Homo sapiens: one gene and its partner. The protein of the gene in region 2 interacts with the protein of the main gene of each other region in a biochemical or structural test. Each region holds a gene or a part of one and is shown on either strand. Other genes may lie near its edges. The genes, in order: MAP2K7 and MAP3K4.

Evidence for each region.
Region 1: the proteins of MAP3K4 (region 2) and MAP2K7 form a complex in vitro, tested with the Homo sapiens proteins (one study listed by BioGRID).

Annotation. Positions count from the first base shown.
Region 1 is NC_000019.10:7,902,812-7,917,885, reverse strand, and holds MAP2K7 (dual specificity mitogen-activated protein kinase kinase 7), read right to left. Parts: upstream 14,010-15,074; 5' UTR 13,942-14,009; coding exon 13,818-13,941; intron 12,079-13,817; coding exon of another isoform or gene 12,031-12,078; intron 8,132-12,030; coding exon 7,990-8,131; intron 7,824-7,989; coding exon 7,757-7,823; intron 7,627-7,756; coding exon 7,513-7,626; intron 7,434-7,512; coding exon 7,314-7,433; intron 7,191-7,313; coding exon 7,083-7,190; intron 6,907-7,082; coding exon 6,727-6,906; intron 6,637-6,726; coding exon 6,556-6,636; intron 6,472-6,555; coding exon of another isoform or gene 6,451-6,471; coding exon 6,308-6,450; intron 5,738-6,307; coding exon 5,692-5,737; intron 5,590-5,691; coding exon 5,455-5,589; 3' UTR 3,408-5,454; downstream 1-3,407. Other genes in the region: TGFBR3L (transforming growth factor-beta receptor type 3-like protein), read right to left, coding at 27-413, 944-1,618. UniProt on the Homo sapiens protein: Dual specificity protein kinase which acts as an essential component of the MAP kinase signal transduction pathway. Essential component of the stress-activated protein kinase/c-Jun N-terminal kinase (SAP/JNK) signaling pathway.
Region 2 is NC_000006.12:161,038,693-161,053,766, reverse strand, and holds part of MAP3K4 (mitogen-activated protein kinase kinase kinase 4), read right to left. Parts: intron 5,152-15,074; coding exon 3,788-5,151; intron 1-3,787. UniProt on the Homo sapiens protein: Component of a protein kinase signal transduction cascade. Activates the CSBP2, P38 and JNK MAPK pathways, but not the ERK pathway. Specifically phosphorylates and activates MAP2K4 and MAP2K6.

The DNA of each region.
Region 1 (15,074 bases), on a different chromosome or scaffold from region 2:
CCCGGCTTGGCGGAGGTCGTCGGTACCTGAGTGCGCACAGACGAGACCCAGCCCGGCGGCCAGCGCGGCGCCCAGCACGAAGGCTGCCAACACCAGCGCCACCACCGGCGCGGGTTCCAGGGCCGCGGGGGCCGGCGCGGGAGGCTCAGGGCGCACTGCACGGCCGGGGACACTCTTGGGCGGCCCTGTGGGAAGTGCCACGCTGAGACTGGGTCCAGCTCCCAGGCGTCCTTCCCACCCGCTCTGCCGCCCCACGGCCCCATGCGGAGGAGGACTGCGTGCTCACTGGGGGGCGGCCGCGGCACGGTGACCACGATAGGCTGCGTCAGCGTGTGCAGGTGGGGGCCGTCAGCAGCCAGGCCCTCGGCGCTGCCACTGCCAGTGTCGGCGCACGCCTCGTCCTGAGGCAGACACTGGGGGAGAGGAAGGTGGGGAAGAGACGGGGACATCAGGGCACCGGGATCGTGGCTCTGGTCCCCAGGGCCCCCAAGAGAGACCTGAGTCCAGCTCTCCACCACAGCCAAGATGGGACCCCTGGAAATCCGGCCCCTTAGGGTGCCCTGAGCCCAGCCCCTACGCATACAAGTGGCTAGCCGCCCAGCCCCTAAGGACCCCAAATCCCAGCCCCACAAGATCGCATGGTCCGCGTCTCCCAGCACCTAGCATGTGAGGCCCAGCACCAGGTTCCCAGAAATGTGTCCCCTTAGTGGCCTTCTGCATCCAACCCCCAGCCCTGAAGGATTCCAGAGCTGTCCATGGGGGAACCCAGTGTCCACACTGTCCCCGGAGAAACTCTGTCGGCAGAGATGGACCCTTGCGCCCCACCTCCCCCAACCCCCAGATCCTCAGACCCCGAGAGTATCCTCTTTCCACTGCCAGAGTCGCCCGTGCCCAGCCCCCGAAGGGCCCCAGCGCCCGGATTCCAGGCTCTGCGCCCGCGCACCCGCGATGGCGGCGGCGGCGGCGGCGGCGTCAGAGGCGCAGGCGCCCGGCGGACTCCCCGGAGGCGGCGGCAGCGGCTCAGCTGGCAGTGCAGGAACTGCACCGAGGCGTTGAAGACCGGGCGCAGGCGGAAGCTGAAACGCGCGGGGCGGGCGGCACCCGGGCTCGGCGGCGGCGGTGGCGGGAAGGCGACAGAGGTGTCGGCGGGGCAGCCCTCACGCAGCAGAGCCAGGGCGGGCCCCGGGGCCGGGCGTGAGGACGGCGTCACTGAGCAGCGGTGCAGGGCCAGGCCCCAGCGCGGGGAGGGACGGGCCAAGGCCGCCTGGGGGACGGAGGCGCCATCAGGGATCGCCCGTCCCCACCGGCCCCCATCCGCCCCTGGTGTCCCCGGGGTCCCCACCTGCACGAACACGCGGCTGTCGGCCGGGACCTCGAGCGGCCCCGCGCGGCGAGGAAAGACGTCCTCTGTGTCGGACAGCTTCAGGCTGAAGAGGGGTCTGCGCAGCCAGGGGCCGGGCGCCGCGGGGAACGGGGGAGCTGGCGGGGCGGGGAAGGGCGGCCCAAAGGAGAGAAAACGCGCGCTGCCCTTTAGGCCTCCGGGAAAAGTGACCCGACCACCTCGCCCCCGCCGCCGCCTTTGGAAAAGGGATGCGGTTGCGGCGGCCGATTCACCCATGATGGGCTCCGCGCCACTTTCCCCCCTGACGGTGATGTGCCCCCTGGCGACCCCTGGGACTCGCACAGCCCAGCAACTGAGCCGGTTGCAGAGCCATGCGCCCCTAGAGAAGCCTCCGAAGCTGGCGAAGCCCTCCCTGGGGCGGAAGAGAAGCGGTGAGGAGCACCCGATGGTGGGGTCCGGCTGGGTGAAGTCAGAGCTCCCCCACCTTCCCCAGGGCTGCTCTTGGGGACGCAGCAGGACAGGCGGCTCCCCTTTCTAAGGGGAGATAGGTGCTGTCACCAACGAGGAAGGGAAGTGAAGAGGATACCCTCCCAAGAGGCTCTCCTGGGCACAGCCAAAGCCCAGCCAGGCCACCAAGATCTGAGACGCTTCCACTTGTCCAGGCTGAGGCAGCCATGGGACCCCTCCCCTCTTCGTGCCCCTAAACACACGCTGATGTCTGCCTTCAGGTGCTGAGCGGGGTCCTGGTAAAACGGCTAATCTCCAAATACGAAAGATTGCCTGCACATCCATTTTTCTTGTTTTCTGAGACAGGGTCTCCCTCTGTCGCCCAGGCTGGAGTGCAGTGGTGCGAATACAGCTCACTGCAGCCTCCACCTCCTGGGCTCCAGCCATCCTCCTGCTTCAGCCTCTCGAGTAGCTATGACCACAGCCACTCGCTACCACGGCCATACGGGGTCTATGTTGCCCAGGCTGGTCTGGAACTCCTGGCTTCAAGCGATCCTCTCACCTCAGCCTCTCTTAAGTGCTGGGATTACAGGCATGAGCCCCCTTGTCCATCCGCACACCACACCCACTTCTGAAGAGCACCTGGGTAGACTGGCCCCCTCCCACAACTCTGGCCCTCTCCGTGGCTGCAGGGAGCTTTGCCGAAGTGGGGATGTGAGCCACCCTTGGGATGGGGGACAGAGACCCCACCCCACTCCCCTGCCCTGTCCCCACCCCCATGAGGACCACCACCAAAGGTCTAGTTGAAAGAGAGTGACATCGGTGGGGCGCGGTGGCTCACACCTGTAATCCCAGCACTTTGAAAAGTTCGAGGCGGGCGGATCGCCTGAGGTCAGGAGTTCGAGACCAGCCTGGCCAACATGGGGAAACGCTGTCTCTACTAAAAATACAACAATTAGCCAGGCGTGGTGGTGCGTGCCTGTAGTCCCAGCTACTCAGGAGGCTGAGGCAGGAGAATCACTTGAACCGGGGAGGCGGAGGTTGCGGTGAGTGGAGATTGCGCCACTGCACTCCAGCCTGCGTGGCAGAGCAAGACTCCATCTCAAAAAAAATAAAGAGGGTGAAACAGGGATAGAAGCATGACAGACCCGTCACCTCCCTGCCCATACATACCAGGTGGCCCGCTGGGTAAGGTGGTGATCCCTGGGAGCAGGGCCAGCAGCAGCACGGTGCCCAGCATGCTGGACCAGCTGAGGTCGGAGTGTTTGGGGCCAGAGCAGACACCAGCTGGGCTGCACCCAGGTCCCGCACGTGGGCAGGCGGCCCTGTCCTTGGCAAGGAGGGAGGCAGGGAGCGGGGGTGGCAGACTGAGGGGCTGACACCAGAGCCAATGCCCAAGGCCTGAGGGGATTAAGGGATCCTCTGCTGCCCGACCTGTGGCCACTGGGGGCAGGGGGTCCCTTACACCAGCTGCTTGATACCCATCGGCAAGTCACTACAAACACCTCCCGTCTAGCTCCCAAACCTGCCTCAGTCTCCCCTCAATGCAGAAACCTCCCCCCGCAACCACCCCCTTCCCACCTCGCCCTGCCAGGCCCATGACACACCACAGACTCGGTGGAAGAAAAGGAAGGGGTTTATTCTCAAGCGTCTAAGGGTTTACAAACGAGGGCATTTTGTTTTAAAAAGGGGCAGGGCGACACTGGCGGCCTGAGGAGGGGTCCATTGGCTGGTGGGCTGGCCCGAGCCACCCTCAGGCCCCTGCCCACCCGGTCCGCCCTCTGCCTGGTCCAGAGGGATGGCTGGTGACGAGGGGGGAGGTCTTGGGAGAGGCTGGGAGGCAGGAGAGACTCCCCCAGGGCTCCCCACTTAACACTGAAGGGGGTGGGGGTGGGCGGACACACACTCATAAAACAGAAAATAAAGTTAAATAAAAATAAAACCAGGCAGCCCGGCCTCGGGCCTGTGCTGGCCCTGGGACCAGCCATGCAACCTTCCGGCAATCGCAGAGGCCCCCATGGCTGGATGCAGGGGAGGAAAGGGCCAGGCCTGTTGGCACCCCCACCCGGCAGACCCCTGGCCCCTGACAAAGGGGCCAAGGGGCAAGAGAAGGTGGCTTTCCTCCCTGGGGGCAGAGAGAAGATGACATCTATGACTTTTTAAACATGCGGCGTTTTGTGAATATCATGATAATAACAAGAGTCAACAGGCTAAGTGAGAGGAGAGGGATGCTACGCCTACGCTGCCCCCACCACGGCCAGCCGGCTTCTGCGCCTTTGGTGTTGGATTTTCTTTGTGATTTTACGGGGTTTTGTGTTTTTTTTTTCTTGTTTTTTGTTTTGTTATTTTTTCTTGTCCACTTGATTTGCATGCAACACCCACAAAAAGGAAACACACCCCCTCCTGCTCTGGCCACCCCAGCAGGCTCCGGGGGGCACCTGGCCTGGGTCCCCGGTGCACTCACCCGGTCCTTCCCAGTCCTGGACCTCAACGTGGACTGGGCCAGGTGTGGGTGAGTGGAGGGACGGCCAGGGGCACGATGGGAGTGACCACCTCGCACCCCCACCCTCAGCCCGGCCCCCACCCCTGCTGGAGCTTGTCACACGTCCTCAAACCCCCACATCCACTCCCTCTGCCCTCCATCCCTGACTCCCTCCGGACCCCTCCCTTGGCCCCGCTCCGTCACCGATTCCCTCCGGTCACCTGCTCTGCACCATGCCCCAAGACCACCTTCCCTGAAGGCCATCCTGTGCGGCCAGGGCCCCGCAGACCCCTCCACATCCCCTGAGGTCTTCAACTCACCCCAAGCTGTGGCCCCCGGAGACCCCAGAGCAGCAGCCCCAGCCCAGCTCCCCAGTGCCCGAGGGCGGTTGGGGCCCCACCACAAGCAGCTAATCGTGACTTTGGTAAAAGTTTCTGAAGGTACCGACAACCCCACGAGAACAAGCTCTCCTCCGCCCCCACCCCAAACACCCCACCAAGTACAATAAAATACAATAAACTCCAAAAAGGACCCCCTGAGATCAAAGAGAGAGAGAGAGAGAGAGAGAGAGCGCGAGCGCGCAGCCCCGTCCAGCCGCAGTGGCAATGCCCACACTGCCTGGCTGGGGGCCACTGACTCATTGCGCCATGGGAGACCTATGCAGACCCAGGGGACCCGTCAGGAGGTGGCTGGGCCCAGGCTCAGGCCAGAAGAGAGACAGAGGCAGGGAGGGTGACGGGAGAGCCAGACAAGGACAGAGAGGTAGAGCAGGGGACAGAGGGCGACGGAAGAGGAACGGGCGCGTGGGAGTGGCGAAGGACACAGCACGCTGGGAGCGTGCATGGTGGCTGCGGGACTCCAGGGCTCTCTCCTGGCCCCTGGGGGCCGCCCCGGCCCAGAGGCTGCGGCTGAATGAACAGCGACTCTGATCGCGGCCTGCTGTCTTCCGTTCACAGTGTCTGTCGGGGGACGCACACGGCCGGCTGACCCCGGGGTGGGAAGGGCGGGGGCTTGGTAGGCCCGGGGCGGGGGGGGTGGGTGGGCACCCCCCACTCTCTGTCCTCAGTCCTAGGTGGCCGTCCAGGTCCCAGGTCTCCCCTGGCAGGCAGCTGGGTGGCCAAGTGGGGAGGGGGGCCTGTGGCCATGCCCCTGGCCCCCTGTGGGGCTGGCCGCCGCCAAGCAGCTACCTGAAGAAGGGCAGGTGGGGCTGGCTCAGGACGCCGCTAGTCCGCGGTGACTCAGTCTTCGCCATGACATCCTTGAACCAGGACGCCACGTCCACCTCCAGCGTCTCGTAGCGCTTGATGAAGCTGTGTTCCTGTGGGCCCGAGGGGGTGGGGCTTAGGAGGAGACGGTCTTCCCTCCTGGCCTCGCGCCTCCGCAGGGACAGGACGGGGACTGGGAGGGCTCAGGTACTCACAAGTAGCTTATTATACTTTGGTCTCTTCCTGTGATCTTTAGTAAGGCTAGAGCAAGAGAAGGGAAGACAGATGTGAGAACGAGGGAGGAGGGGATGCCGGCCCCACCCCTGTGCTCAGGCCCTCCCCAAGGGGCCAGGGGTCCCCAAGATGTGTGTGGGGGAAGGAGCTGTGGATGTCCTCAGGACCCCGGCTGACAGCGGGGAGCAACTGTGAGTCCCGGAGCCTCCTGGCCTAGGGCCAGGTGGCAAGGGCCTGGCTTGGGGGGCCAGAGCTGGCTGAGGTCCCCCAGAAAGGTGGGTGGGGCTCCCCTGAGAGAATCGAACATGGCCCTCCTGAACTTGTAGCTGTGCTTGTTGCAGAAGCGTGCTCACAATCTCCAACAGCCACCCCGCCAAATGCCACAGGGCTGGCTGTCCCCTCAGGCTAGGTCCAAACCCAGCTCATGGCTCCCTGGGCACCAGCTCCAGCTCCTGTGGCAGCCGCCAGCCAGGAGCCCGCCCACAGTCGCATCCGCCCATCCCAGGGTGCGGCCTCCATTCCCCTCCTGCCATTGCCTCCCCAGCTGCCCAGAGCAGCGGGCTGTCCCTGACCTCCCAAGTGGAGGGAGGTTCTCACCAGTCTTTGACGAAGGACTGGAAGTCCCCCGAGAAGCCCATGTGTCCGGGCAGAAGCGGGGGCTCTTCCTGTAGGACTTTGGTGAGGACCTCAAAGTCCGTCTTGCAGTTCTTGTAGGGAAACTGTCCTGTTGCCAGCTCCACCTGGGAGGGAGACGGGCAGGGCTGGACAGGTTTATGTTCTCCTCCCTCCGAGTCCCCCAGAAGCCCTCACTCCTGGCTGGAGAACAGGGGAGGGCCCCAACTCACCAACGAGATGCCCAGGCTCCATACGTCGGCCCGGATGTCATAGTCCGGCTTGGTGGGGTCTGGGGGGTCAATGCGCTCGGGCTGCAGGGGGGGGAGGAGAAGACGTATCTCCAAGGCTGGGGCCGGCCTCCCAGCCCCCACCCCCTCCCCCGCTGGGGGGCCCCCACTCACTGCCATGTAGGCGGCACAGCCGGCGCTCCGCGTCTTGGCTTTGGAGTCCACCAGGCGGCCGCTGATGCCGAAGTCGCAGAGCTTGATCTGGCCCCGCTCGTCCAGCAGGATGTTGGAGGGCTTGACGTCGCGGTGGATGACACCGTGCTTCTCCTTCAGGTAGTACAGCGCCTTCACAATCTGCAGGCACGCAGAGGGGGGTGCATGTGGCAGGGGGCACAGACCCAAGGCCACCTGCCCGGTGCACGCCCCACCTGGCCACTCACCGCCACTGTCATCTTGCCCAGTGCACGCCCCGCCTGGTCACTCACCGCCTCTGTCATCCTGCCCAGTGCAAGCCCCGCCTGGTCACTCACCGCCACTGTCATCTTGCCCAGAATGCGCTCGGGGATGGGGCCCTGCATCCGCTTCTTGAGCTTCTCAGCGCAGGTGCCCATGAGCTCCATGGCGATGAAGACGTCCGTCTGCAGGGAGAGGGGCACCCGGGGGAGCTGTGTCTTCCGGCCCACCCCCCAGAGGCTCTGCTCCCTAGGAAGGGGCAGGGGTGAGGGAGGAGGAGACGCTGCAGGGCGCGGCCAGGTACTCACGTTGGTGATGAACGTCCCAAAGCACTGCACGATGTAGGGGCAGTCGTGGCTCTTCAGCACCACATCCAGGTCCATGAGGATGCGCTTGTTCTCCTCCTTGTTCCCGGAGCGCCGCATTTGCTGCACAGGCAGGGACAGGAGGGAGCCTCAGCACCGGCCTGGGGTGTGGGGCGCAGCCGGGGTAGCCGCCAAGGCTCACCTTAACGGCAATGACGTGGCCGGTCTTCCGGAAGCGCATCTTCCACACCTGGCCGCAGGTGCCGCTGCCCATCTCGCCCAAGTTCTCCAGGTCGTTGATTTCTGCCTGGTAGCGCTGGGAGGAGAGGGAGGGTTGGAGGGTCCCTGGGGCCTCTGCCACCGCCCCCTGCCCCCCACTGGCGCTCCCAGGATGGGTCCAGCCTGGCTGGGCCTCCTCCCTCTCCCCGCCACAGTGAAGGTGGTACCTGGCCCCCGATGGTCAGGTAGCCCGTCTGCTTCATGATCTCCTGCAGCTTCTGGTCAATCTCAATGCTGGGGACATGGAGCAGGTGCCGGTGGAGGTGGGTCCTGACCTTAGGTTGGCCACCCCAGTCCCCCATACCGGGGTTCCCACCGGTTTAACCACCCTCCTCCCAGGGCTGGCACGGTGGCCCCTCAATGCTGCTTCCCACCCAACCCTGCTGGGCCCCTGGCTCACCTCTCCATGCTGCGGGGTGTGAACAGGGTTGACGGGAGCCCCAGCATGTGGCGGGGCCGGGCGGGGGGCGTGGGGTGCTGCGGGGAGCTCTCTGAGGATGGCGAGCGGCTGCCCCCATCGTTGGCCAGCGGGAGCTGCAGGGCTAGGGGGGTGAGAACCAGTGGCAGGGAGGGGGGTCAGCGCCCAGCTGGTGTCAGCTCCACATCTGGCACTCCAGGGAGGGGTCGGGACCCTCACCTTCCCCTCCTGGGTTTCCCGAGCTAGGCTGGCACAGCCCCCTGCCCTGCTGGGCTGGAGGAGCTGGGGTCTCCCTCCCACCCCAGACTGTTCTCAGGGTCCCTTGTCTCATCCCCTGACCTGGAAAGAGATGGAGGAGGCTAGCAGGGGAGAGGGAGCCCCAAGTCTACGCTGACGGAGAAACGAGATGGGGACCTGAGGTGTCCCTCGGCCAGGGGGCCTCCCTGACAGGTGTGTGCACTTCCTCCCACTTCTGCCCAGGAAGCAGGCCCAGGGCCACAGCACCCACAGGATGGATAGGCCAGGGCGGAGTGCCTGCCAGGGCTGGCCCAGGCTGTGGCTCTGCTGGTAGCACTGAAGTTGGCTCCCAGACAAGAGCGAGCAGGGCCACGCTGGGGAGGCAGCGGGCACGAGACCCAGGCTTCAGGCTGCCTTGCCCTATCTTCTGTTCCGGGGTCAGGGAGGGCCCCCCTCGGGCCAGTGGGCTGACATGAGGGCCTCCTGGCCTGGCCTGCAGAGCTGGGGCCCATGGGGGCAGGACAGGACCTCAGGGGGCCTGCATCCTCTGGGAGGAGAGCTCGGGGGCACAGCTCCTGCAGGGGCTGGCGGGACCAGGTGGGGCCAATGCTGGGCCAGGCGGGGGTTGGCTCATCCAGCAGCCTGCATGCGGGCAGCTCGGGCATGCTACAGCGGGTGGGCAGGCGGCGGGCAGGCAGCAGGCACCCTGGGGTGGGCAGGCGGCATTAGGGGTGGGAGGGCAGGAGACAGACAGACAGACAGGAACCAAGACTAGGGCCCAGGTGCCCAGAGGAGGCGCTGCAGAGACAGGCCAGAGAGGGGCCTGGGACAGGAGGGCAGCTTCCCGGAGGAGCTAGGGTCTCCCTGGCTGGGCTGGCAACAGGGTGCAGGAACAGAGGCCGGGATGCTAACGTGGCCTCCAGAGGAGCCAATCCTGACACGTCACATCCTAGAGGCCCTGACAACGGCTACACACACCTACCAAGGTGCCCCTCCCACAGGAGCTGGGGCCTGCCGCTCTCCAAAGCCCTCAGCCAACAAGCCCCTCTCCCCTCTTTTCCTCCTGCCTCGTCCACCTTTTCTCCCCACAGTTCTGCAGGCTCCTGGTGACTGGTGCCCAGGGACTAATATGAACAGACAAACCCGCTCCATGCTGGCAGCTAAACCCCGTCCCTCCCGTGTGCCCAGGACCCTGATCTCAGCCAGTAGGAGGGGCAGGAAGACGCCTCAGTCCCAATGCAGGAGGCCCAGCATTGCCCCTATCTGGTCCTGCCAGCCCCTGCAGGAGCTGTGCCCCCTAGCTCCCCTCCTGGAGGACCAGGCAGGAGCAGGGGAAGGGCTCTGGGGACCTTGGGACACAGCCAGGCCCAGCGTTCATGACTGGCCTAGAGGCCTCACCTCCCGTGCCCCTCCCGCTGTCCTGGCCACTGCCGCCTCTGCAGCACCACGTCACCTCCCACTGTTTTTTTTTTTTTTTGAGATAGGTTCTCGCTCTGTCACCCAGGCTGGAGTGCAGTGGCGTGATCTCAACTCACTGCAACATCCCCCTCCCAGGTTCAAGTGATTCTCCTGCCTCAGCCTCCTGAGTAGCTGGGATTATAGGTACACGCCACCACACCCAGCTAATTTTTGTCTTTTGAGTAGAGATGGGGTCTCGCTATGTTGGCCAGGCTTCTCCCTCTGCTTCTTCAGGTCCCTGCGCCTCTGCTCTGTCCATGGCCTGAGCCACAGCCCCAGTCCCCTTCTGGCTCCCGAGGGCCTGTGCTCCCCCCAACCCAGCCCCCAACCCCTGTGCACCTGGCATCTCTTGAGACACTGCCTAGTTCCCGCCCTCAGAGAGTATCCGAGTCCCGCTCACACCCTGCACTCAGCGGTTGACGACCACAGCCCTCGAGGAGTCCTGTGGGCCCCTTCCCTGACAGAGCCCACCAGGCCTTCCGAGGGTGGCCCCGGAGCCTGGGGAGGAGGCTGCCGGACCACAGACTGGAGCATGGGGGGATGGAAGGGAGGGTTCAGGTAGGCACTGGGGGAAGGAGGTACACAAAGGCCCTGAGAACAGAGGCCACAGAGGTGGTGATGGCCACATGGCAGCTCAGGAGGGTGGAGTGAGAGCAAGAGGGTGAGGATGAGAAAGAGAACGGATGAGAGAGAGCGAGAGGCTGGAGGGCACGTGTCTGCCGACAGGAGCCACAGGTGCACCGGCTGCCATGTCAACATGCACGCACATGCCGTGCAAGTGCACGCACGCACAACACACACCCGGGGCATGCCGTGGACCTAACACCCATGCAGCCGGGACAGAGTCCCCCTTGCCCTCGGACACACATACTCACAACCACTCACAGGGCCAGGCACCCCATCTACTCTCTCTCCCAACACAGGCGTGGGGCACAGCCTGCATGCCCCACACAGGCTGGCGCTGCGCTCAGAGCCCTGGCGGCCCTGTCTTCTCTCCCCCCCCAACTCCTTCAAGACGCTTTTTAAATTTTTTTTTTTTTTGAGACGGAGTCTTGCTCTGTTGCCCAGGCTGGAATGCAGTGGCGCGATCTCAGCTCACTGCAACCTCCACCTAATCTTTTATGTTTTTTTTTTTTTTGAGATGGAGTTTTGCTCTTGTTGCCCAGGCTGAAGTGCAATGGTGCGATCTCAGCTCACTGCAATCTCCGCCTCCCGGGTTCAAGCGGTTCTCCTGCCTCAGCCTCCCGAGTAGCTAGGATTACAGCCTCCCGAGTAGCTGGGATTACAGGTATGTGCCACCATGCCCGGCTAATTTTGTATTTTTAGTGGAGACGGGGTTTCTCTATGTTGGTCAGGGTGGTCTCGAACTCCCGACCTCAGGTGAGCCACCCGCCTCGGTCTCCCAAAGTGCTGGAATTACAGGTGTGAGTCACTGTGCCTGGCCTAATCTCTAGTATTTTTAATGCAGACAGGGTTTCACCATGTTGGCCAGGCTGGTCTCGAACTCCTGACCTCAAGTGATCCACCCTCCTTGGCCTCCCAAAGTACTGAAATTACAGGCATGAGCCACTGCGCCTGGCCCAGTTTTTAAATTTTTGAGACAGGATCTCGCTGTCACCCAGGCTGGGGTGCAGTGGTGTGATCATGGCTCCCTGTAGCCTCAACCTCCCCGAGTGTTGGGATCACAGGTGTGAGCCACCGTGCCTGGCCTCCCCAGAGGCTTTGTTCAATTCCCACCGTCTCCAGAGGTTCCCCCAGGCTGGCCCCCTGCAGGGCCGCTCACCCAGCTAGAATGTTCTCTCTGGTGGGAATGTGCTCCTTGTCCAGTGGGCCCCCCTATTGCAGCCCCCCGCTACAGAGGAGAGGGGCTCCATCTGTTCTATTCACTGCTGTGTCCCTGGCGCCCAGGGCTGGTATGGAACCCGGGGGGTGCTATGTGTTCACCTAGTTGTTGAGAGAGATCCATAGGCACAGGCCACCCACCCACCAGGCCCAACTTTCTCGTTCTCTCAGTTACACACACACAGGCGTGCACCCCCCCCACCCCCGGAGGCCACAGACTCCCATTCAGTGGGGGAGCCCACCTCCTCCTCCAGGGAGTCCAAAGTGGAGCTGGGAGTAAGGGAGGGGGAGGAGGAGGGAGGACGCAGAGGAGGCTGGGCTGGGCTGACCGCTGCTTGAGTGGAGTGAGAGAGAAAGTGAGAGTGAGGGGAAGGGACATGGGGACACACACAGAGCATGGGGGCTGGGGGACGCCATTCTGCGGCCGGGGCAGCGGTTAGGTCAATGGTGCAGATGTCCAAGCAGCGATGATAAAAAGGCTGGTACCTGCTCGTTGGGACGGGGCAGGAGCAGGGCTTAGAGTGATCACAATAACTGGATGGGGAAAAGGAAGAAAAAAACAACACCACGATAAATCACAACAGAAACGACTGATTCGTCCAAAAGAAAAGAAATCAAATCATAAACGAGGAGGAGGGGGAGGCACCGAACTGCAGAGATGGCTAGGAACCGACAGAGATGGGGAGGGCGGGGAGGATGGGATGGAGTTGACACAGACAGAGACGCCTGGAGGGGACTCCTCGGGGGCCTGCCTGCCACCGGCCTCCTAGCTCTGCATGGGAACGGCCACCCCTGAAGGCACCCGGGATCCTGGACTCAACCCTGTCTCATCCACTCAGGGGCCAGGGAGGGCGGCCCCCAGGGGCTAGCAGGGACCCGTGTCTTGGCTGGGCTTCTTGTCTCAGGCAGTGTCCTGCACCAGAATCCCCACCTCCATGATTTCTCTGGACCCCCAAGAGACTCCCCAAGGAGGAACCCACGCTGACTCAGGTCAGGAGAGGGAGGGACAGGAGGGTGTCAGGCTGTGAAGGTCAGGCTGGGTGACCAGGGAATGGGTGGGGTGCCCAGATACGGGGGTACCTTTCTCGCCTGCCATAATGACTCCATAGAGAGAACTAAATAAACTACGAAGGTCACATCAGAGGAGACAAGAGAGAATTTTACTGGGTCAAGAAAGACACAAAAAGGATCATGGGTCAGGGGTGGTGTTCACAGGGTTTGAAAATCTAATTTCCTCCAGCCCAGAGGATTTAGAGACCAGGATCTTGGGGAAAAAGCCGGGAGACTAGATATGGTCAGTGTTCCCAGGCCAGGTGTGTGTGAAGCGAGAGGTACTGATCTAGGATGACAAGGTGTCAGGGAGGTAGGTACCGAGGTGGTGGGACTGATCAGAAAGCAGGTGGATGTATGCTGGGGCGCGGCGGGAGCAGGCCTAGAGTCACACTGGCCCCAGGTGTCCCCAGGTCAGGTGGGTGTGGGTGTGAAGGGAAGGGGAGCCATCACTTGAACACAGGTGACAAAGTCACCGGGCTGGCTGGGGGTCGATGTGCATTTCTGGAGGTCAGACACCACACGCTCACCAAGATGGTGGCAGTGAAACTGGTCACAGGGATTTGCGGGGCCTGGTGTATGTGGGAGGGGGTCTGCTGAGCCCAATGCCATGGTCACTGTCGCCAAGAGGGGGAGAAGGGACCCCCTCCCGTCCCCCCACCTCAGACACGGTCACAGGGAGAGCGAGAGGGAGAATCCTCGGGTCAGAAGAGATGGGGAGGGGCTCTATGTGGTCAAGTAACCTCAGGTGTCCCCGAGCCAGGCGTGCGCGTGTGCGTAGATCGTCGCTGCACGGGGCTGACAAGCCCCCAGGCCGGGGGAGGGGGGCGCCAGACAGTCCCTGAGATGACGAGAGTGGTAGCATCAGGTCAACAGGGACGTGTCTGTGTTTTCGGGGCGACCTGGATGTGGTCACTGTCGCGTGGAGTCGGGGAAGCCCGACCCAGAGGATCACGGCGATGGGGGCGGGTCATCAGCTGGGGGCCTCGCCTGGGTCCGGGAACTGGGCTCCCAAGCCCTGAGGGTGCGAACCCCCCGGAGCTCGCCGGCTCCACGCCCCCCGGGTCACCGTGACCCTCGCCCCGCGAGCCCGCAGCGGGGGGGGCGGAGAGGAGAGCGAGCGCCCCGGAAGCGGGGGCGGGGCCTTGTGGTGGGGGCGGGGCCTCCCGCGGCGCGCGCCCCGCCCCGCCCGCCCGCCCCCTCCCCCACGCCGCCGTGCTTACTGGGCCTGGGCCGCTGGGGGCTGATATCCAGGTTGAGGTCGATCCTCCGCCGGGCCTCCCGGTTCTCCTGCTTCAGCTTTGCTTCCAGGCGGGACAGCTTCTGTTCCAGGGAGGACGCCGCCATCTTCCCCGCCGCCACCGCCGCCGCGCACCGCCCGGCCGCCCGTCAGTCCGGCAGACAAACACCGCACTGCGCCTGCGCCCGGATGACCCCGTCGAGCCGCCGTCTCGCCCCGCACCGCGCATGCCCGCGGCGCGCACCCGCCCTTCTCCGCGTGCGAACCTCCGCGCGTGCGTGCTTCGGCTCAGCCCGAAGGATGACGCCACCTAGAGCTCGAGGCAGGCAACGTGCAACCCCCGCCTTCGTCGCCACCACCACCGTAGTGCGCATGCGCCAATTCCCGATCGCTCCTGAGAGAGGCGCTGCGAGGAAACACCATTCTTCTGAGGACGGTGGGCGGGGAAAACGGCGCGCATGCTTAGCGAGGCGAAGCCGTGTTCGCCCGCGTGGCTTTTGCGCATGCGCATTCCTGGAACCTCGTTCCCAAAGCGGCAGTCGATCCCTGGTCTCCACGGCGGTGCAGCCTCAGCCTCCTCGCTTTTCACGGTCGGCTTGGGCGTCCCTTCGGAATGCCTTCCTCACTGATGGTGCTTTATTAGGATTCCTCTTGTGCTTAATTACCTCCTAGCCTCCTGCTGGCAGCGGGGTGCCGCCTCCTCACCGTAATTAGGCTCCGTCGAGAGCCCTTTCCCTTCTTGCCAGCCCCAGCAGGCTCAGAGTTGGCCGAAGCCAGGGGGGAGGGGACGGCCATGGGAACCCAGCGGTGTGACCCCTGCCCTCGGCGACGGGGCCAAGGTCAAGGCCAGAGTTGTTGGCCAGACCCACATAGAACCTCAAGACACCCCCCTTATCTCTCTCGCACCCGGAACGTGAGCCCAGCGCCTGGACGTGGAGAATTCCTATCTGAGGAGGGGCGCTGGGGTTAGGTGCCAGTGCTTGGGCCCCCGGCAGCCTAAACCACTCCTTTAAGTGGTCCGACGGGTGCTGGGGAAATGTCCCATCTGGAACCCAGGGATCCCCCCAAGAGCGGCTTCCCTCTGCTCTTAGATGCGAGAAGGAAGTTCTGATTTTGCGGACACCCGGGAGGTGGCCAGGGCCAGGCAGACTCTGCCAAGTGCCCTTCCAGCTTCTGGTCCAACGAGGGAACACTTTGGGATGAGAGTTACCGGCTTGTCGGAACTCCTCTGGTGACGATT
Region 2 (15,074 bases):
ACAAAAAATTAGCCAGGCATGGTGGTGCACGCTTGTAATCCCAGCTACTCAAGAGGCTGAGACAGGAGAATTGCCTGAACCCGGGAGACAGAGGTTGCAGTGAGCCGAGATCTTCCCATTACACTCCAGCCTAGGAAACAGAATGAGACTTTGTCTCAAAAACAAACAAACAAACAAAAAAGTCCTCAAACCTAAAAGGTTTTACTGCCTAAAATGTATGCCCTTAAAATGTACAATTATTTGGCAGAGGTTAAAAGGCAGAAGATATCTTAAAAATAAAAATACAGTTGCACCCATATGGATTTACAGTTAGCTTCAAGGAAGAAAAAGTAATAAAACTTCTAAAAGTTTATGGTTGATTTGTAGAGCATTTTACCATTTGATAAGATGTGGATCTGTGTCCCCACCCTATGTTGAATAGTAATCCCCAATGTTGGGGGTGGGGCCTGGTGGGAGGTGACCGTTTAGTACCATCCCATTGGTGCTGTTCTCATGATGGTGAGTGAGCTGTCAAGAGATCTGGTTGTTTAAAAGAATGGAGCACCTTCACCCTGCCCGTGCTCCAGCCATGAGAAGTGCCTGCTCTGGCTTTGCCTTCCATCATGACTATAGCTCCCTGAGGCCTCCCCAGAAGCTGATGTTGCCTGCCATGCTTCCTATACAATCTGTGGGACCATAAGCCAATTAAACCTCTTTTCTTTATTAATTACCCAGTCTCAGGCATTTCTTTATAGCAGTGTGGGAATGAAAACACCACTTACCGCCTATCTTTTTCAGCCTCACAACAACCACCTTGTGAGGTAGGTAAGAAGGTAGTATTATACCCACTCTATAAATGCAAAGGCTTCGAGTCAGAAAGATTCCTATCCACAACGTTCTATGGTAAGAAAGGGTCACAGTGAGAAATGAAACCCAGTTAATGGACTTCAAAATTGTGACTCTTTTCCTGACATACCAAATAAAACGACTAAAACAAACCTGGGAGTGGGGGACTGTACACATATTCACACACATACACACACAAGCACGCACACACACACGCCTCCCTTTATAGAAATTATGTTCCTAAAGTGGGAATAAAAATAAAATCTTACTTTCCCACTAAGTTAATTAGAATTGTAGAGCCTTATCTTTTGTTAGTTTGGATTAATCCCCAATACTGAAGAAGTCCCACTTTCGCTCTCTGTTACTCTTTCATTATCTGATGAACACTTAGCATCTTATGAACCAAAATTTAAAACAACAGGGGCTTCTGTAGTTCATTTTTTGAAAAGCAAACAACCTACACAAAATTCTAATAAAGTCTTTCAGTTATATACCTTATAAACTTTGAATTCGTGTTTCTTTTCTTCTATAACAAAGATGACCTCTTCAGCGAAATCTCAATTGGTCAAACCAAAGAACTACAACTCAGATGAGAATTCAGAACTCTGGGGAAACTATTACTGTCTTTTTTCAACATGAGTTCTAATATAAGATGTAGGGCACGTGTTCTCAATCTTTTCTTGCTATAACATATCTAAGGGATACAATCCTCATTAGTAGCAATAGTTAATCACCACGAAGAGCCTGGAGAGGAAGGAAGACAATTTGGGGAGGGAGGGTGGGTGAAGCAGTTTACGGAAGCCCGACATGTCCAACTCACCCCCGCCCCACCGTGGCCTCTTCTCATGTGCTGCTCTCCTATAAGAACCACTGAATTAGAGGTGAGGTTATACAGTCGGCCCTCTGAAACCCTGGGATATGCATCCGCAGATCAAGAATGTTTGAAAAAACATTAAAAATAAGAATACAACAATAAAAAGTAATACAAGCTACTCAGGAGGCTAAGGCAGGAGGACTGTTTTAGCCCACGAGTTTGAGTCCAGCCTGGGCAACGTAGTGAGATCTTGTCTCTAAAACAGTAATAGTAATAATACAAACAAAAAAGATACAGTATAACAACTATTTACACAGCATTTACATTGTATTAGGTATTATAAGTAATCTATAGATGATTTAAAGCATACAGGAGGATGCACATAGGTTGTATGTAAATACTACACCATTTTATATGAGGGACTGGAGCATCCAAGGATTTGAGTGTCCATGGGGGTCCTGGAACAAATCCCCCTGGGATGAGATACCAAGGGATGTTGGTACTGCCAGGACTTTTTTCTTCACTCATGTTACTTCAAAACCAGTGGTCACAATACAAATTAAACATCAATCCTGTCTTACCAACATATGTCCTTAATGAAATTAAACCACTCCAGCCATTCATGTTTAAGATTTCTAATCAAAATAATATTCAAAGTAAATCTCTTAAAATATAGCTACAAAGCACTGGTTCATGTTGTAAACATCTTCCTGAATTTATGTGAATGCTTAACCCGTTCCTCCTAAGGGCTCATAATCCGGCTGTCAGAATAAAAAATTAAAATCTTGCAAACTCAAGTTCTCTTCAGGTGTTTTCCATAGTTTCCAAGTTGTTTATCGTTAATGAATTTAAAGCAAGCCAGGCTGTGTAAAAAAAAAATGAAGTTAAAAAAATAAAAATAACAAGTATATACAGTTGGCTCTCCATATCCGTGGGTTCCACATCCATGAATTCAACCAACTGCAGATCAGAAATATTTGGGAAGAAAAACTACATCTGTATTAAACATGTACAAACTTTTTTCTTGCCATTATTCCCCAAACTATACAGTATTAACAACCATTTACACAGCATTTATATTACATAAGGCATTACACATAATCTCGAGATTAAAGCATACGAGGTTGTGCATTGGTTATATGCAAATACTGCATCATTTTGTATGAGGGACTTGAGCATTTTCGGATTTTGGGATCCGTGGGAAGTCCCAAAACCAAACCACCTCTGATACCAAGGGGATTGTACATATGTATGTATACAGCTACTAAAATTCAGAATCACAGACTTAACACGGGTATAAGGTATTTCAAAGATTTGGGTTTCACTTTTAGCCAGACGAACATGCAAACTCACCAGAAAAGCAAAATCACTTGTACAGTACTATTTTGGACTCTCAAGAATGATATCCCACAAAATGCCCTTGTCTAGTATTACCACCCTTTACAATAAGGAATTTATAACACGTCAAGCTATCAAAAGCAAATCTATACTGTTTTCAAGTCACTTCCTCTAGTGGGCACATTCCTCTCACAAAAATCTACACATATCGAAACACATATCTGACAAAAATCAGGACTTCCCTTAAACTTTCATCACCTGCACCGAACACTTTAACCTTGCGAGATAGTGTTGGCTTTTTCCCCTTGATCATTCTGACATTTCTCTATAATTTACATCTCTTTAAAATACAGTGACCAAAACTTGACATGCTAATCAAAAGAGAGAAAACAACTTCAAAGGATAGAGAAAGAACTCTCTCCTTGACCTTGGGCGCCCTATTCATTTATAAACACCTGAGTGTGACGTGGACTTTTTTCCTGACTCACATGCAGCTTGTGGTCATCCATGACTATGGCTTTCTTCCTTCCATTTTTGTTTATACCCAGCCTGTCCTTTGCCATCCTGTATTTACGTGGTTGAACTTATTCCCTCCACATACCACCCTGCACTTAATTCACTAAATTTCATGCAGTTTTCATAGATCTATTTAATCATAGTACTTTACAGAAATGCTTAAATGTGCAATTTATAACTGCCATTTGTGTTCAAAAATATTAGAATATGAAAGTACATAACACCAACATTATAATTTGCAATAAATAAATGGAACTAAGGATATCATTGTATTAATACCTACTGGAAACCTACCTCCACTGGACGATCGTTCTTTACCAATGCTATACGTGCCCTTTGCAAGGAACCATCCATTAGCTTGTGAAGTCTTAAAATTAACTTTCTTAACCCCATCTGCTTCAGTGCTTTGTCTACAAATGGTCTATAAATAGAAGTCAGACAATGTCTACTAAAGCCTGCTTCTGTGCTCCAGTCTGGTGCTCCCCAGCCAAGAGAATCATCCTCAGATTCGAGCCTCTCAAGCTTCTTGGATATGCAGTCCCGCGACTGGATGTCGAAGCTGTTATCTATGGGCTGTCTGATTTCCGGTACCCTAGGATCAGAGATTTGTTCTTCTTCACTCTCATCCGTACTACTTTCCAACTCCTTTAATTCTCCTTCTGTGTCATCACCCTCATACTCCGGCTCATTACCTTTGGATGGTCGAGGGGAAGGGATTTCAAACACTGGCCAGCCAATGTCTGATAAATTCTTGATGCCCAAAACAGTGCCCATAATCCTTAATTTCTGATTTAAGTCTTTTGTGATGTTTAACCACAAACAGAGTGCCTGCACCCTGTCCTGGAAGTCTTTTGCAGCATATTTTTCATAGTCCTTCTGAAGAGCCTGCAATGATGGATAAAGTGCTTCTATGTACTCTAGCAGCTCCATTATCCGTTTTACCTGCTCAAATGAGACCCTCTGGCGTTGGAGATGCTCATGATGTGTTGAGTAACCTACAATCTTTGTTCCAGGAGTGGCTTTGCACTGCCCTTCTACTGAAGTACCATTAAAACCAGCTCTATCTCTAACAAAGGCGAAGCTCCCATAGTCGACTTTGAAAGTAAGGATTTCATTAATAATATCTGGGATGGCTTGACGGGCTGTATATAAAAAGAAGTCCTGGTCGTTAATTGTCCGTCCTGCATGCCAGGCTTGTAGCTCTAACCAGATCAGTTCGTTAGATCGGTTAAGCCAGAAACCAGACGTATTTTCTTGTCCTCTTTGCTCCCTGTCTTTTTTCTTTGAGACTGAGGTAAGCTTTAGCAAAAGTCGTAAAGTTTCAAAAAACTTTAAACGATCTGCTGGACAGTCAGTCCTAGAAGTCTGGCGTGCAGGTCTGGCTATAGGCATGGGCACAGATACTGGAAGCTTAGCATTGCTACAGCCAAGGCTGAGGTAAGGCTTATTGAGATCCACATCTGGAATTGATTTTTTTGGCAAAGATCCACCCACTGAGTCTAACATGAATGAGCACTGTACATTTTTTTTACGATCACGCTCTGTTGTTCTAAGAGCTGCTCGGATCTTTTTCTCCTGCTTATAGCTGTATTCTTCCACATTCTCCACTGTTTTTCCAGTGTCTTTATGTGGAGGCTGATTTGGTGCATTCATTTTTTCTATTAAAAAAAAAAATAAACAGAACATTATATAACTCTAAAATATGAAGCTACTCTCAATATTTTCAATAAAACTGGTATTCACACATATTTATATTTTCAGACTGCTAATGGAAGAAAAAAAAGCATACCATATCCTAAAAATTAAAGGAATCAAAAAATATATATGACATTTTCTATATTTTAAAAAAAATTATCCATTTTTCCAGTATTTGCTGTATTCTCTTATATTCACAACTAATTACCTAAACTAGCTGTTTATTTCTCTCTATGCTACAAAGCATAGTTATCAAATCATTTAACCAAATTTCCGTAAGTAATCACCTTCAATTTAAGGAGGAAGAAACAGCATGGGAGATCTGACGGACACCTGGATGAGAAAATATATTTAATTCCTGCATTTGTCATTAGCTAAATGTGTAAACTTAAGAGGAAATCACGTAAATTATCTGGATTACTTTTCTCATTGATAAAATTAGGCACATTGATGCAAGAATACTTAAGGCACCCTAAGATTATTCTCATAAAAAACTGAAAGACAGTTGACAGACAAAAACACTGACGTTAGTTTATTCTATTCCTTTATTTCTCCTTTGCCACAAACAAGTGGGCAATAACATTTTAAATTTAAAATTAGCAAGACTGAAGACATATAGACTAATTTGGTATAATTTGCTTAGTATGTTATACTGCCATGTAAAATCATTTACAATTAATGCGAAAAAAGCAAAAACCACCCACTTCCTTCAAACATCTAGAAGAGGTTCTATAATCTGATTCCAAGCTTTAAAATGAACACACATACATCCTGTATGGCACTTTTAACACTATTAATTGCTCTACGTTACTGAAATCCTTTCATTCTGTTGCTTCTGGGTTCTTACACTTCCTTAAGTTAGTCCCTTCTTTTCAAATACCTCCTTGGAGCTTTGCTCACTACATAAAATGTTAATGTTTCTCCAAGTGCTAATCTTAGATCTCTTCTCCCTGGGTGATCTCATTCATTTCCACATCATATATCGATAATGCCCAAACCTATAACGCCATCTCAATCTACCCTCTACACTCAAGGCATAGTTTATTTCATTGAATCTAGGACACACATTTTTTCATACATTAACATCTCTGAAATTAGAACGTTATATATAATCAATGATGATATAAGTAAGTTTTAGGGACATATTTGCCAATATTTTTCATTTACATTTTTCTTTTTTTCTGAGACAGGCTGGAGTGCAGCCTCAACTTCCTGGGCTCGAGTGATCCTCCCGCCTCAGCCTCCCAAGTAGCTAGAACCACAGGCACGCATCACCACACCCAGCTAATTTTTTTTTTTGGGTAGAGACAGGATCCCACTATGTTTCCTAAGCTGGTCCCAAATTCCTGGGCTCAAACAATCCTCCCACCTCTGTCTCCCAAAGTGCTGAGATTACAGGCATGAGCCACTATGCCTGGCCCATTTTTTTAAACATATATATATATATATATATATATATATGCATAAGTGAAATATATATCTACATATCAGAAAGTATAAAAGATCTCTTTAAATAAATAAAAATTCCAATTATAAGAACACACCATCAATTATAAGCTGTTTTTACCTTAGAATATATTATAATCTCTTAGTATATATTTCTTATATACTAAGAATTTTATTATATATATTAATATAATAATTATACTAAGAAATTATTATATAATTTTCTTAGTATATAATATCACCTAGTTTTAGGTGATTAGTTGGGAATATATAAGAGATTAGTTGTGAATGTAATATCTAAAGACATATTAGTATATCTTCAGATTTGATGGAATAGGGTATATTTACATGGGTTACAAACCAATATACCACAAACCAAGGCACCAATGAAAATTTGCTTAAAACCAATTTACTTCCTAACCGATTCAAATTAGTCTTAAAATAAGGATTTTTAAACAAATTTCCCAAAGAGCACTTATAGCTTGGTTTTTCTTATATTAAACTTGCCTTAAATTTACTTTATGATCCATCAAAAAAGGTTTTAAACCAATCTGTCCATAGAGATTTTTTGCTGTATTTTAGTATACAAACTACTATTATTATTATTTTTTAAATTTAAAATTTTTAAGATAGAATTTTTATCTTTAGTACTAATCTACTTCTAAATGTCTTTAAACTTTTCATATAGTCCATTTAAGAAAATTTCTTCACAGTTTTATTGTTTCTAGCTATAAATGCTTATCAACTCTTATTTATATAAAAAAATTGCTTAGACCAACTTTAATTCTCTTGCTCTGATGCGTTTAACTGTGTTTTTTATACCTTTATTAACAGAGCACATACATACTATTTGGTTAACCCATGGTATTTTGAAACCAAAAATGACCAGTGCTTCCACATTTAACTCCACTATATTTTTCAAGATAATTCATATTATACTTTATTACTGGGAAACACAAAATGACATATACATTGTATCACTGTGTAGGACTGGAGGTAAAGAAAATGAGTTCAGTTTCTAATACACTGAATTTGACGTGCCTATGGGACATACACGTGGAAATATCTATAGGTAACTAAAAAAACACACATGTTGGGCTTAGGAGAGAAATCCAGAGAAATGGATTTGGAAATTATTAGTATGTACAGATATTATTTAATATCGTGATAGTAGATAAGAACATCCAAGAAAAGTGTGCAGAAGAAAGGCAATGAAGACCTAGAATAGAATGTGTATTAACTATTATGTACACCCAAATAAATGATTTTGAGTCAAAGAAAACAAAAAATTGTGAAATAAAAAACAATCTTGTTGGCTCAGGCGTTGGGCTTTTTAAAATACTTTATAGAACTAATGTGGTGCATTATTGATAATGGCCACAGACTATCTGCATACAATTTATAATTGGAAAGTAATAGTTGAGAGTGAAAAAATATTACTTTTCTTATATAATTTATTCAAGTTCTTCTAATCTATGATTGAAAGGTCCTAAGTGAAAACTAAGGATTAAATGACTTTAATAGTCCCAGAAGACTGGCTACAAGCATTATTCCAAATCTGTGCTACACTTACCAGGGGCAAAACATGAAAATAATAACAGATGAAGCTTCTCACCCTAGACCTTTATTCCAACAATGAAAGCAATCTAAGAAAAAATGCCACAATCCCATTTTTCCACATAAACATAATCTCATTTCAGCAAGCCTGAAAAAGTAACTTTTATAGGTTAAATACAAATCTTGTTAAGTTTATCTCACAGCATACAAAACAGTCTATTACACAATTTTTTGAAATTTTGTGTTCAGATAAAGCAATGGTTTAATATTTGGACCTACATAGTAGGTTTAAGGAAAAGCAAATTGGGAAAGGAGCAAGATGGGACAGAGAAGCTTTTTGTTCCCCCCCACCCCAAAACAAAACCCAAGTTGGTTTTGGAAAAATATACACAAAATATAAATTCATACATCTTAGTTTAAATAATGACGCAATTCGAACTTAAAATAGACAAACTCGTGTCTAGCTACTGTGCAAAAAGGATATACCAATTACTCTACCTCAGCAGTAGCTACATTTTTAGAATAATATACTTGTGACAGAAGGAGAGGGTGATTTGGTTTGTATATTTGCCCCCTCCAAATCTCATGCTGAAATGTGACCCCCAGTGTTGGAAGTGGGGCCTGATGAGAGATGTCTGGGTCATGGGGGCAGATTCCTCATGGATGGCTTAGTGCCCTCCCCACGGGAACCAGCCAGTCCTCGCTCTATTAGTTCATGTGAGAGCTCTCTCTTGTTCCCTCTCTCTCCATGTGACATGCCTGCTTCCTCTTCACCTTCCACCATGAGTAAAAGCTTCTTGAGGCTTCACCAGAAGCTGAGTTGATATTGGTGCCACGCTTGTATAGCATACAGAACCATGAGCCAAATACACCTCTTTCTTTACACATTACCCAGTCTCAAGTATTCCTTTATAGCCAACGCAAAATGGACTGACACAGAGAGTAAATCCAAGAGTGCTTTCTGGCAACTGATGACCAGTTAGGCCTCTATAAAATCATAAGGGACTTATGACTTAAGGGAGATCTGAGAACAACACTAGGGTGTTGGGTGCGGGGGTAGTCTATAGACTTAGTCATTTCCCTGAGCATTTTTACATTTTGTCTTTACCCACTCTGACATGACTAAGGAACTTTTTAATAACAACCAAAAGCCTATTACTGATGGACAGGTGTGCTTGTTTTTTGGTTTCCTATTAATACTAAATTCCTTTGCAATTAACAAAAGTCAAATGGAAACAGAGCAGAATTCTGAAAAGGAAAATGAATAAAAAGTACAGGAGTTAGCTATATAGAATGTTTTATTTGGCAAGTTCTAATTACAGGACTACAAAAATAGTTCTTAATAACTTGATGAATGGGACACCTGATCTCCCAAGTGACTATAAATGAAATGGTGTGATTTTTGTAGCACAATTAAAGCAAACCTCTGGAACACTTTTTCCTTTGGCCAATCACCAATAATTCTGGTAAAATCAGAAGAACATAAAAATTTTTTTAAAAGAAAACTTTATAATGAAACTGAAAGGAACCAATGACAAGCAATATGGTTCATCTGACGGATATAAGACAAACAAATGAATTCCCACCATCTACAACTAAAAATGGCTCTTTAGAATATGTATTAATTGTATTTTTAATCAAACTCTTGCAATTTTTATGTTCTCCCATATACATATTGTCCAAATTTTAGAAACCAGCCTTATTTGAGCTCTCAAATGAGATGTAAACAGATGGATAATCTTTAAGTATGAGATGATCTTCAGAGTAATGATGAACTAGAATACCAGACAAGTCAGCAACCTGAAGGGACTTAGAGATCATCTAGCTCAAGCTTCTCAAATTTCAGTGTATGTTCGAAATCACTGCGTTCCTGCTAAAGTGCACGTATCTCTGACATGGCTACAATGGCTCCACATTTTGAGAAATTGCTTTATCCAGCTTCCATTTTCCAGGTAAGGGCTTCACAGACATTGTCATAATTTTCGTAACAACATGATGATGAAGATTATCACAGAACACAGATGGTTAGACACATGGTTAATGTCAGAACAGGGGTCCTAGCCCAAGTTGGTGCCACCACACCATCCTTGGACTTGTCAAAGGTGTTTGCAAGGCAGTACCAACTGACCAAGGAAAGGCTAAGACAGCGAGTACCACAAAAGATTACACAGGCTAACTAGTCTGTAAAGGCTTAAAGTAAAAGCAAGTACTTGATTTGGGGCCTCGAAGAATGGAAGCTTAAATAAGGGAAGTAAAGAAGGCAAGAGCATATCTGAAGCCAGCAAAGAAGAGACACAAGGGCAGCAAAGAAAAGAGTGTGGCTGAACACTGAGCCTGTATATGGAAGCCTGGAAACACAAACCAGGACCCTGAAAGTCAGGCTAAGTTTAGACTAAAGAGCTGAAATATGGATTTAAATCCACTCTGGTTGACACAAACATTTCACTAGCTATATAGATTGAATCTGATTTGTAACCATTTTACCAGCTCCATTTTACATCAGTATGATATTCTTTAAAAAGCAAACATTCTAATTTCACTACTGTTAGCAGATACACACATTTACACACACATATATATAGGCACACGCATGCATGCACACACACACACCTTGAGATATTTCCTAACAGGGATGTGTGTGTGTGTGTGTGTGTGTGTGTGTGTGTGCAAATTCTCATATAAATTGCAAAATATTTGCTCTACTTCTGTAACCCAGCTATGGCTGATGACCATCCCGCTATGGCAGTGCTAGAATAGAAATGCAAAATGAAGCTGACAATGATCGCCCAGCAATGCCCTGGAAAGGGTTTTGGCTTGGGTGTCTTTTAAATTCCTATTTCACCTACTTAAACTATGAGATAAACTGAATGTACTTCCTTCTGCTATATTAAAAAGAAAACAAACATTTAAGGAAAAAAATGGTTTGACTGTCTCTTAAACCAACCTTAAGAACAAACAGTTATATTTGACTAAATATTGTCCAAAACGTATCAAAATCTTAATTGCTATAAATTGGTAATGACTACCATTATCCAAAAGCATAATCTCAAATAACACCGCAGCTAGCTCCTGTGGTGTTAAACTTAACACTCACCACAGTATGAAATCAAGCCTGTTCACTGAGTTCACTCGAGTTTACCTGGTAGGTTACATCAACTGGGACGTCAGATAGCAGACTTTCAGGTAATGCAGAGCTAATCATCCTTACCCAACACTCAAACACAGTCTTTAGATAAAATGCCTTTTTTTAAACTATCATATAAATTAAGAAAGTTTTCCCAATAAGACAGGAATTTTCAGCTTTTGGTGAAGGCTGGGCCATGAGATGCAGCAGCCATTTTGTAGTACACAGCCTCTTCTCTCCACTGTTCAAACATACACTAACATCCTGCTGCTAAGAAGGGACTGTGTAGATATAATTCAAGTCCTTAGCCAGCTCATTTTTGTTTAATCAAAAGGGAGATTTTCTTGAGTGGGCCTGACTTAATCACATAAAAGCCCTTTAAAAGAAGGCCTGAAACTTGTGGTGGTGACACGCACCAGGAGGGTCAGCTACTCTGGAAGCTGAGGCGGGAGGATCACTTGAGTCCAGAGGTTCCGGGCCAGTCTGGGCAACATAGCGAGACCCCATCTCTAAAAAAAAAAAAAAGAAAAAAAAAAAAAGAAACAATAACTCAAGGCCTTTACCCTCCCTGAGAGCATCTGCCTGTCCATGGTTGGAGTCTGTCCACCTTCTGTCCGTCTGGTATCACAAGTAGCCCACACCTGAAGTGGAGATACCAGTTTCTGCTCGTCAACTCTCTATGTAACAGCCACACTGGTCTAAAAGGTCCAAGACAAGGCACTGGGCTTAAAGCCCTGCACAAGCTGTAGTGGGAGTGGCTGCACAGGGCAGCCCCACTTGAGGCCCAAGTGCACCTGGGGGCCATGTCCGAGGCATCAGGAAGATGATTTCCTGTGCTCCTGAAAGTCACCAGATCTAAAGCTGCTGCTGCAATGGCCGTGGTCCTCTCTGGAGCCTTAGCCGACAACAGGCTCCTGGCCCTACCCTTGCCCCCATACCAGCTGAGCCCCTAGAGGCAAGTCCTCCATGCGACAGCCCTGCAAATGGCCGTATCTCAGGGGTTCACTTCCTTGCTCCCTCACAGATGCCTGTGGGCTGAGGGTCCTGGGCCTCGGCAGGGTTAGGGGAAGGACCAGGGATGACTGGCAGCGTAGAGATGCCAGTAGCCTGCACTCCAGCCCCCAGGGGCTCCTGTTAAGAGATAGTTACCCACAGACAGGTGCTGGGAAGGCATCAGCGTGGTCAGCATTCATGGATTTGCCGATAGGTAGTCAGGTTGGGTCCTGAGAAAGTGAATCCTAGAGCTATATGTTCCTTGGGCAGGTGCTGGAGGTAGGGCTGGTCCTCCTGCTATTCCTTGGGCTGGAAGCCACCAGGCCCTCCTTCCAGGGCAGCAGTTCTAGCTCTGCTCCACCTTGGCCTTCTCCTACCCAAAGCCTTCTCCTACTCACACTCTGGACATGGCTGCTTCACCTTCTCCTCCAGGTGGCTCCCAGGCTTCTGATTAAGCCAGCCCGTGGAAGACAATCTCCCTTTCATTAACTCAACATCAACAGGTTAGGGAGGTTAACTGCACCTGCAGAACCCACTGGCCAGCAGCATGCAGAACAGTGTTTGATCAATGGGGAGAAAGTGGGTGGACCTCACAGGAGTCACTGCCTCCCTTCTATCCCTATTTGCACAAAGATAATATCCTCTTACTGAACAAACTTGTTGACATTTATGACCTTTTAAAAAGTCTTTTCTGTAAAACCAGCAAATGTGGAGTTGGGGGACTATCTCTGTTCTTGGCTAGTGTGGAAGAGACCTTGTAGCCTTTGCACTAATTTTGAATTTGCTATGCATCTGATGGCTTTATCCTTTGAGTGCAACTCATGTCAGGATGAGCAGTTTTGTTAAATTCATGGTAAATGTTATCTAGGTCAATGCTTCTTAACCTTATTTGGGTCACAGACTACATTTGCGAATCTGATGAAAACCATGGACTCCTTACAAAAATGCACACATGCACATAATAAAATCTGCATTCAGTTTCCAGGGACCCACAATCCTCGTGATTGCAATATAAATAGGGCTTTGATAACTTTCTTTGATTCCTCACGTTTTCTAAATAGTTGCATTCAATTAAATACTGTGATTCAAGTGAGACATTTCTGAAGCTGTATATATCTGTGTGTGTGTAGGTTGCACACACACCATGTAAATGTCTATATATAGTACTTGTATGTAGCCTCATATTTCCAGTAAATTTCATACTGGCCTTATGCATTCAACCACAATCCCCAACTATATTCTCCTTAGTAAAGATAAATATAAAATGAGAAATAGGCAAATTTAAACAGCTAAACTGGCAGATTTTTATATTACTAATACAGAAAATACAAAGAAACGAGGTATTCATACATTGTTGGTAGGAGTATCAAAATGAACTGTCCTTTTGCAGAATGACACGCACAATATCTACCAAATTAAAACACACATACCATTCAATACAGCAATTCCACCACTAGGTATCTAATCTACAAAAATACTCCATATATGAGTAAAGATAAATGAACAGAGATGCTCCCCGCAATAGTATTTTTTGTTTGAAACTATGGAAACACACTATAGGGAACATGGTTATAATGATCCAAACAATACCTTACTTTAAATGTCCTTACACAGAACAATGGCCTCCACCTATTACTAAGTGGAAAAGAGCAGTTATATGTTGGATGTTCTAATTCAACTAACTTTGTAAAATTCCATAATGCTGTATTTATGGTGTGCATCTCTCTTATCTTTACAAAACTAAGAGCTTATTTACAGGCATTCTTCTTAGTACCAATGTTTTATCTCTAATTTCTCCTGTCTATAACTTCCCATTCTAACATGTCACTGGTAATGATTTGCAGGAAATTAGCACTATTATAATTCCATCAAATAATTTCAATGAGTCAATTGTCTAATCACACATATGCACCACAATTAGGGCTATCAATTTTCTCAAGATCTGAATTTACAATTATAAAAAACAAATACATGACAATAGTAGCTACTCTGAGCCTACAGAGGTAATAACATTGCAAGAATCATACCTGTATAATCAGTTCATGAGCATGGCTACCATAGCTAAAAAGCCAGTATTGCTGGTTCTTATCTCTTCCTCTAAATAGTCCCCTCAGTTACCTTTCTGAGTCCTTACATTCCTTCAGGGATGTACTTGATGTTTTTTTTTTTTTTTTTTTTTGCATTTTTGCGGGTTCGGGGCTAGGGGAAGCAAAGACAGTATGACTGACCAGATTCTAATTCCCCAAAGCTTTACAATGAATGCATGTAGCAGTTAACTTCCCAAAGTAACCTACAAACCCGACCTGGTACCGCTGCCTTGAGCAGTCGCCTCCCACAGTGAATTTGGGCCAGCCTCATGGAACTAAAAGAACACAACAGAAGTGACACTGCACAACCGCGGAAGCTAAGGCCTAAGAAGGCCTGCGATTTCCACCTCAGTCTCTCAAAACACTGGCTCTGAGGAAAGACAGCTGCCGTGTAAGAAGTCCAATTACCCAAGGACCACCCTGGGCTAGCCATGAGGAAGATCACATGGAAAGAAAACTGTGCCAGCAGCCCTCAGCTGTTCCTGCTCTCTCAGCCCAAGTGAACAGACACATATGTGAGTGAGGGAGCCATCGTGGATGTTTGACATCCAGCAGACACTATGCAGACAAAAAAAATGAGGGCTCAGACTTAGGGCCCCAGCCAAGCCAGGATGTTTCCAGCCAACTGAGCTATTCCAGCCAAGGCTCCAGACATCCTGGGACAGGGATGACCTGTACC